Linked DNA regions of Homo sapiens. The protein of the gene in region 2 purifies or fractionates together with the protein of the main gene of each other region. This does not show direct contact. Each region holds a gene or a part of one and is shown on either strand. Other genes may lie near its edges.

Region 1 (3,647 bases), on a different chromosome or scaffold from region 2:
GTTCACAATGGTAAGGACATGGGTTCCAAAGCCAGGCTACCTAACTCTTCACTTATTAGCTATAGTGTCTTGGGCAGGTAAATTATTTAACTTGCATCTGAAATGATGGCAATAGTACCTACTTCTTAGGGTTGCGGTGAGGATTGAGTTACTAGCACTTAGAACAATGCCTGGGAAATACATGCTCAATAAATCTTGGCTATCAGCACATGGATTTCTCACAAGCAGTTTCTTTCTAAGTAACTCACTAGCATTTACTGAGTACTTCTAATTGGGACATTTGTATGTGCTCAAATAATTTCAAATTACTTATAATTTTTTTTGTTGCTGTTGAGACAGAGCCTCGCTCCATCGCCCAGGCTGGAGTGCAGTGGCGCGATCTCGGCTCAATGCAAATTCCGCCTCCCAGGTTCACGCCATTGTCCTGCCTCAGCCTCCCGAGTAGCTGAGACTACAGGTGCCCACCACCATGCCTGGCTAATTTTTGTATTTTTAGTGGAGACAGGGTTTCATCATGTTGCCCAGGCTGGTTTCGAACTCCTGACCTCAAGTGATCCGCCCACCTCGGCCTTCCAAAGTGTTGGGATTACAGGCGTGAGCCACTACGCCCAGCCTATATTTGGTTTTCTACAATGAACATGTATGACTTTTGTGGGACAGTCATTTATCCTAACTGGTTGAGACATTCACCTGCGCTCTCTCAAGGATACCTGGCCAGGTCCCATTCAATTACAGACAGTCCCCAACTTATGATGGTTAGACTTAGGATTTTTTGACTTTACAACAGTACAAAAGCTACATGCATTCAGCAGAAACTGTATGTACTTTGAGTACCCGTACAACTATTCTGTTTTTTCACTTTCAATAGAGTATTCGGTATTGAATTCATGAGATATTCAATACTTTCTTATAAAATAGGCTTTGTGTTAGATGATTTTGCCCAACTGGAGGCTAAGTGTTCTGAGCATGTTTAAAGAAGGTTAGGCTAAGCTATGATGTTGTGTAGGTTAGGTGTCTTAAATGCATTTCGACTTACAATATTTTCAACTTAAACTGGGTTTACCAAGACATAACCCCATAATAAGTCAAGGAGCATCTGTATAAAAATACAACTCATCGATCCTTTGCCAGTGCCTTTGGTCACTCAGCTACATCAGTTCATCTTCTGCATATCATCTTGGAGACTGTATCATTTGAAAATAAGTCAATGTCAACAATATTTAGGATTTCTGACAATAAAACAAAGCCAACAGACAAAACTGTTTGTGTGACTACAAACAATCCAATTTATTCTTGTGTTTTGGGGCTACATTTTTAAGCCTGGAAGAGACATTATCTTTTCTAATGATATAAAAGCTATATAAAGCTTTTAATTGTATTATGATTAAGGAAAATAAGGCAATGAGTATTATATCCTATTGTTCCATTTATAATTTCAGGCAGCACATTTCAACCATCCATTTTTAGGCAAATTCCCCACAGAAATCAATTTGACTTCCTTTGCATAAATAAGCACGTGCAGGTGGAAATTTCAATAATATGCTGTATCCTTTAGGTGGCAGGACAAACATTTGCAAAACTGTAACAGGACAGTAAAAGTTTCCATATGATAGTGATGAAACAATACATGTTATAACGTTCAAATCTATTATTCTTGGATCTAGTTTACCAAAGATACAAACATAAGTTAAACAGGGCTGATAAAATCAAAATTTTGCTGGCTATTAGCTAATTCTAGAGAGGAAGGGAGAAGCAGAAAGATGAACTTATAAACTCACTAATAGGATAATTTCTGAAGATGAAACTTTCATGACTAGTCAGTTCTCTCTGAACAGTGATCTAAACTTGTCAAGTAATTTAAATTTTAATTCAAGGTTTAAAAAAAAAAAAGAATGAGGCCGGGGGCAGTGGCTCACGCCTATAATCTCAACAATTAGGGAGGCCGAGGTGGGTGGATCGCCCGAGGTCAGGAGTACAAGACCAGCCTGGCAAACATGGTGAAACCCCATCTCTACTAAAAACACAAAACTTAGCCAGGCATGGTGACAGGAGCCTGTAGTACCAGCTACTCGGGAGGCTGAGGCAAGAGAATCTCTTGAACCCGAGAGGCAGAGGTTGCAGTGGGCCAAGATTGCGCCACTGCACTCCAGCCTGAGCGACAAGAGGGAGACTTATTCTCAAAAATAAAAAAAAAAAAGAATGAATGAAAACCTTCCTTTACCACAATCCCCAAGCTGCACGCCCTCTAACTCCCTATTTTCAATAGAATTCTTATTTGAAGATTTGTCTATGCCTCATCTGTGCCATCCTCTACCATAAAACCAGAATTAGTTTCCAAATCTGATGCTCCCTCAGCTGTATAATTTCACAGCTCCATACCACTGCATTTGCTCTTCTTTTGCTTGGAAAGCCACTGAAATTGTCTTTCTGGCCCAAGCTCACACTCTACCTTTCAACCTTTTTATGGGCTCACTCTACACTCTATGTGCCCCCACAGCAATTTATACCGACTTCTATAATAACTGTTAACATGCCATATTCATTTATTTTTTATATCTAGCTCTTAAAATTCTTGAAGGCTGTGACTAGCTCTTTCTAATTACAGTACAGAAATTTTAGGACATACGCTAAATACAACAGTATCACAAAAGTGAATAAGCATCATGAACCACCCAGCCGCAATTTTTTTTTTTTTGATGGAGTCTTGCTCTGTTGCCCAGGCTGGAGTGCAATGGCATGATCTCAGCTCACTGCAACCTCCGCCTCCCAGGTTCAAGCAATTCTCCTGCCTCAGCCTCCCTAGTAGCTGAGACTACAAATGACCATGCCCAGCTAATTTTTGTACTTTTAGTAGAGACAAGGTTTTACCATGTTGGCCAGGCTGGTCTCGAACTCCTGACCTCAAGCGATCTGCCCACCTCGGCCTCCCAAAGTGCTGAGATTACAGGCATGAGCCACTGTACCCAGCCCCAAATGCAGTTACTAACTCAAGACCAATCCTATTGCAACTATACCCCCAACTTACTATCCCCACCCACCCAAAGATTATTTTGAAGGAAATCCCAGACTCCAAAATATTTCTTTGAAAGATAAAGACTCAGCTGGGCGAGGTGGCTCATGCCTGTAATCCCAGCACGTTGGGAGGCCAAGGCAGGTGGATCACCTGAGGTCAGGAGTTCAACACCAGCCTGGCCAACATGGCAAAACCCTGTCTCTACCAAAAATACAAAAATTAGCCAGGCATGGTGGCGGGCAGCTGTAATCCCAACTACTCGGTAGGCTGAGCCAGGAGAATCACTTGAACCCGGGAGGCGGAGGTTGCAGTGAGCAGAGATCACACCACTGCACTCCAGCTGGGGCAACAGAGTGAGACTTCATCTCCAAAAAATAAAATGAAGGATAAAGACTCTTTATAAACACAGCCACATTACTACCACTGTCACATTTAAATGTTTCAAATAATTCGATATCATCAAGTATCCAGCTGATGATTATATTTCCTCGATTGTTTCATAAACTTTTACTTTTTACAAGTAGTTAATCAGGATCTAAATAAAGTCCATCACGGCAATTGGCTAGTATGCATTTTAATCTCTTAAATCTCTTGTAATCCATAGGTTTCTCCTCTTTTTCCTTTTCTTACAATT
Region 2 (3,747 bases):
AAAGACAACACAGCAAGTGAGGGATGGGTTCTAGGTCCCCTGCACCCTGCACCCTGCACCCTGGCCAACGATGTCTATTTGGCACCAGATCTGCAGGCTCATCTGGGGGACCCCAGGACCCAGAGGCAGCCGGGTTGCATCTCGAAGCTGTGAGCTGCAGCCCAGGAAGGTCCAGGTCTGGGTGGCGCTGCCCAAGCAGGCTGCAGGCCCAAGGAGGAACAAAGATCCTCTCAAGGGGTGCGGAGCTGAGGTTCCGGTCCTGCCAAAGCCACTTGATGACCCCCAAGTGCCCCCCTTTCTGCACCTCAGAGAAGAGCCCTCAAGCCTCCCAGGTCCCCTCCAGGGGCACGAATAAGCCCCAGCAGGGTTCTGAAGGGGTCCCAGGAATCTCCCTGTGGGGATGCGGTGGAGGTGGAGGAGGCTGCGGTGGCCTGGGGACATCTCTGGTCACAGGTGCTGGTGGTATGAGAGATGGGGTAGGCACCAAGCCCCCTGCAGCTGTGGCTAGGCGGGCCTGCAGGAAGGGCCAGGCAGGCTCCTCAGGGACCACAAAGAACAGGGGTTTTCACACCTAGGTGGGCCTGCATCTAGCTAGGACAGTCCCCATCAGGCCATAATGGGCACAGTGGGAGGTAGAACCATGAGTGAGAGAGGGGAGGCTTCCAGAGGCCTGGCCTGGGTCCCTGCTAGATTGAGGGCTCTGGCTATGGTACATGGATATTTCTGCTGTGGAATCAAAGGAGCAGGGGATGCTGAATATCCCCTCTGGCCCTATGCCCTGCTACCTGTCCTTTCACGGAAGGGTGTGTGTGTAGGGGGTGCAGGACCAGGCCTCCCTGGGTGCATCTCTGCCACCTTGCCCTTTGGCTCAGGTGGACCTCCACCAGGTATTCAGAACTCCAGCCCAGAAACGCGCCAAGCCTGTGGGGCCAAGACCTAGGGGGTGGGGGTGGCCTCCCTCCCGCCTGTAGCCAAAGGGTCCTCCCTTGCCCAGCCAGGCCCCGGTGTCGCTTACTGCTCTTATCCACCCCTCCTTCCCAGGCCGGTCCTCAAGGCCCCAGCAAAGGAACCAAGTTCCCGTGAGCCTCCGAAAGGCGAAGGGCAGGCAGCAGCCGCTGGCTTCTGCGCCCACTAGGAGCTTCGGATGCCCGAGTTAGGGCTGCGCCAAGGCGGCCGGAGCAGAGAGGGAGACGGGGACGGGGACAGGCAGGGACAAAGTGCAAGAGGCAAAACTGGCTGAAAAGCAGAAGTGTAGGAGCCGCCAAGGGGCGGGACGAACAGGTCCGTGGGCCGGGCGGAGCCAAGGGTGGGGGCCGGGGTCCCTCCAGGTGGCACTCGCGGCGCTAGTCCCCAGCCTCCTCCCTTCCCCCGGCCCTGATTGGCAGGCGGCCTGCGACCAGCCGCGAACGCCACAGCGCCCCGGGCGCCCAGGAGAACGCGAACGGCCCCCCGCGGGAGCGGGCGAGTAGGAGGGGGCGCCGGGCTATATATATAGCGGCTCGGCCTCGGGCGGGCCTGGCGCTCAGGGAGGCGCGCACTGCTCCTCAGAGTCCCAGCTCCAGCCGCGCGCTTTCCGCCCGGCTCGCCGCTCCATGCAGCCGGGGTAGAGCCCGGCGCCCGGGGGCCCCGTCGCTTGCCTCCCGCACCTCCTCGGTTGCGCACTCCTGCCCGAGGTCGGCCGTGCGCTCCCGCGGGACGCCACAGGCGCAGCTCTGCCCCCCAGCTTCCCGGGCGCACTGACCGCCTGACCGACGCACGGCCCTCGGGCCGGGATGTCGGGGCCCGGGACGGCCGCGGTAGCGCTGCTCCCGGCGGTCCTGCTGGCCTTGCTGGCGCCCTGGGCGGGCCGAGGGGGCGCCGCCGCACCCACTGCACCCAACGGCACGCTGGAGGCCGAGCTGGAGCGCCGCTGGGAGAGCCTGGTGGCGCTCTCGTTGGCGCGCCTGCCGGTGGCAGCGCAGCCCAAGGAGGCGGCCGTCCAGAGCGGCGCCGGCGACTACCTGCTGGGCATCAAGCGGCTGCGGCGGCTCTACTGCAACGTGGGCATCGGCTTCCACCTCCAGGCGCTCCCCGACGGCCGCATCGGCGGCGCGCACGCGGACACCCGCGACAGTGAGTGGCGCGGCCAGGCGCGAAGGGGCGGGGGCGGGGGGCAACGGCCGCCGGGCCAACCCGCTCAGTCACACTCTGAGACCCTCGGCGGGCACCTGCTCGGGGGCCCCGGGAACCGGGGCGGACTCGGGCTCCGGTCCCTTCTGACGCGGGGCTGGGGACGCAGACACTCTTGGCTCCGGCAGCCCAGCGCAACCCCTGAGGTCGGGCGCCGCCTCCCGCCTTCAGAAACTCGGGCTCCGAGCGCCGAATTCCAGCGCCTTCGCCCGTGGGCACAGGGCGCGCGGTGCAGCCACAGGGGGCCCGAGACACGCGCCCCGGCCTGGCCCAGGCTGGGGAACCGCTGGGGTCGGGCTCGCGTCTGAAGGTCCGGGACTGGGTGCGGCCGCCGGGGGTCCCCTACACAGGCAAGCTAATCTGAGCTAGCGCAGGCTTGGGCTCCGGAGGCCCTAGAGGGCAGCTTGGGCTCTGGAGGCCCTTGGGGGCGGCTGCGCCGGGAACCCTGGCCCTTTATCCCCAACCCCACCCCAGAAATAGGGTCCCCGGAGGCGAACAAGCCGAGGGGCGGAGTGGGCCAGGGATCACCTGCCCCGCAATGACCTGCGCCCCGCCCCCAGGCCTGCTGGAGCTCTCGCCCGTGGAGCGGGGCGTGGTGAGCATCTTCGGCGTGGCCAGCCGGTTCTTCGTGGCCATGAGCAGCAAGGGCAAGCTCTATGGCTCGGTGAGTACCGCAGGGGTCTGGCTAGGCACCTAGTTGGGAACAGCGGACATGGCTAGCAGGCTCGTGGCTTCTCCAGCCCCACCTGTGCCTGGGTCTTGGAGGGGTGGCAGGGTCACCAGGTCACGGGACCGGCAGGCCTCCCCAGACAAAGGAAGCAGCCCCAAGGCAGGAACAATGAGGTTCCTGCCATCCCTGAGTGGGCCCCTCCCAGACCGAGGAAAGGGCGCTATTGAGAGCCCTTCCCTTCTCTAGTCCAGAGGGGTAGGTCTCAGTGTTGGAACTGCGGGCTTGAGGCTGGACACGGAGGGAATGAATTCTCTGGCTGCTAGGTGCAGGGCAGGTGGTGAGAGCACCAGCTGTTGTGGGCTGGCCATGTCCCCTTCTCACCCTGTGTGGGTCTTGACACCTTAACTGCTCAGCAGAGACATCTCAGCCCAGGGTGGGGGGTGGGACAGAAGGGGGTTCTGACCCCTGGCTTCAGGCTGGGTACCTTGCCCAAGAGGTGCCCCAGCCCTGACACTGCCCTGCTTTGCTGCAGCCCTTCTTCACCGATGAGTGCACGTTCAAGGAGATTCTCCTTCCCAACAACTACAACGCCTACGAGTCCTACAAGTACCCCGGCATGTTCATCGCCCTGAGCAAGAATGGGAAGACCAAGAAGGGGAACCGAGTGTCGCCCACCATGAAGGTCACCCACTTCCTCCCCAGGCTGTGACCCTCCAGAGGACCCTTGCCTCAGCCTCGGGAAGCCCCTGGGAGGGCAGTGCCGAGGGTCACCTTGGTGCACTTTCTTCGGATGAAGAGTTTAATGCAAGAGTAGGTGTAAGATATTTAAATTAATTATTTAAATGTGTATATATTGCCACCAAATTATTTATAGTTCTGCGGGTGTGTTTTTTAATTTTCTGGGGGGA

Evidence for each region. Proteins that work in one complex are often made in the same cells at the same time.
Region 1: the proteins of FGF4 (region 2) and UACA purify together in Homo sapiens (affinity purification with mass spectrometry; one large-scale study listed by BioGRID and IntAct). This does not show direct contact.

Annotation. Positions count from the first base shown.
Region 1 is NC_000015.10:70,753,492-70,757,138, forward strand, and holds part of UACA (uveal autoantigen with coiled-coil domains and ankyrin repeats), read right to left. Parts: intron 1-3,647. UniProt on the Homo sapiens protein: Regulates APAF1 expression and plays an important role in the regulation of stress-induced apoptosis. Promotes apoptosis by regulating three pathways, apoptosome up-regulation, LGALS3/galectin-3 down-regulation and NF-kappa-B inactivation.
Region 2 is NC_000011.10:69,773,110-69,776,856, reverse strand, and holds the start of FGF4 (fibroblast growth factor 4 precursor), read left to right. Parts: upstream 1-1,515; 5' UTR 1,516-1,772; coding exon 1,773-2,112; intron 2,113-2,729; coding exon 2,730-2,833; intron 2,834-3,371; coding exon 3,372-3,548; 3' UTR 3,549-3,747. UniProt on the Homo sapiens protein: Plays an important role in the regulation of embryonic development, cell proliferation, and cell differentiation. Required for normal limb and cardiac valve development during embryogenesis.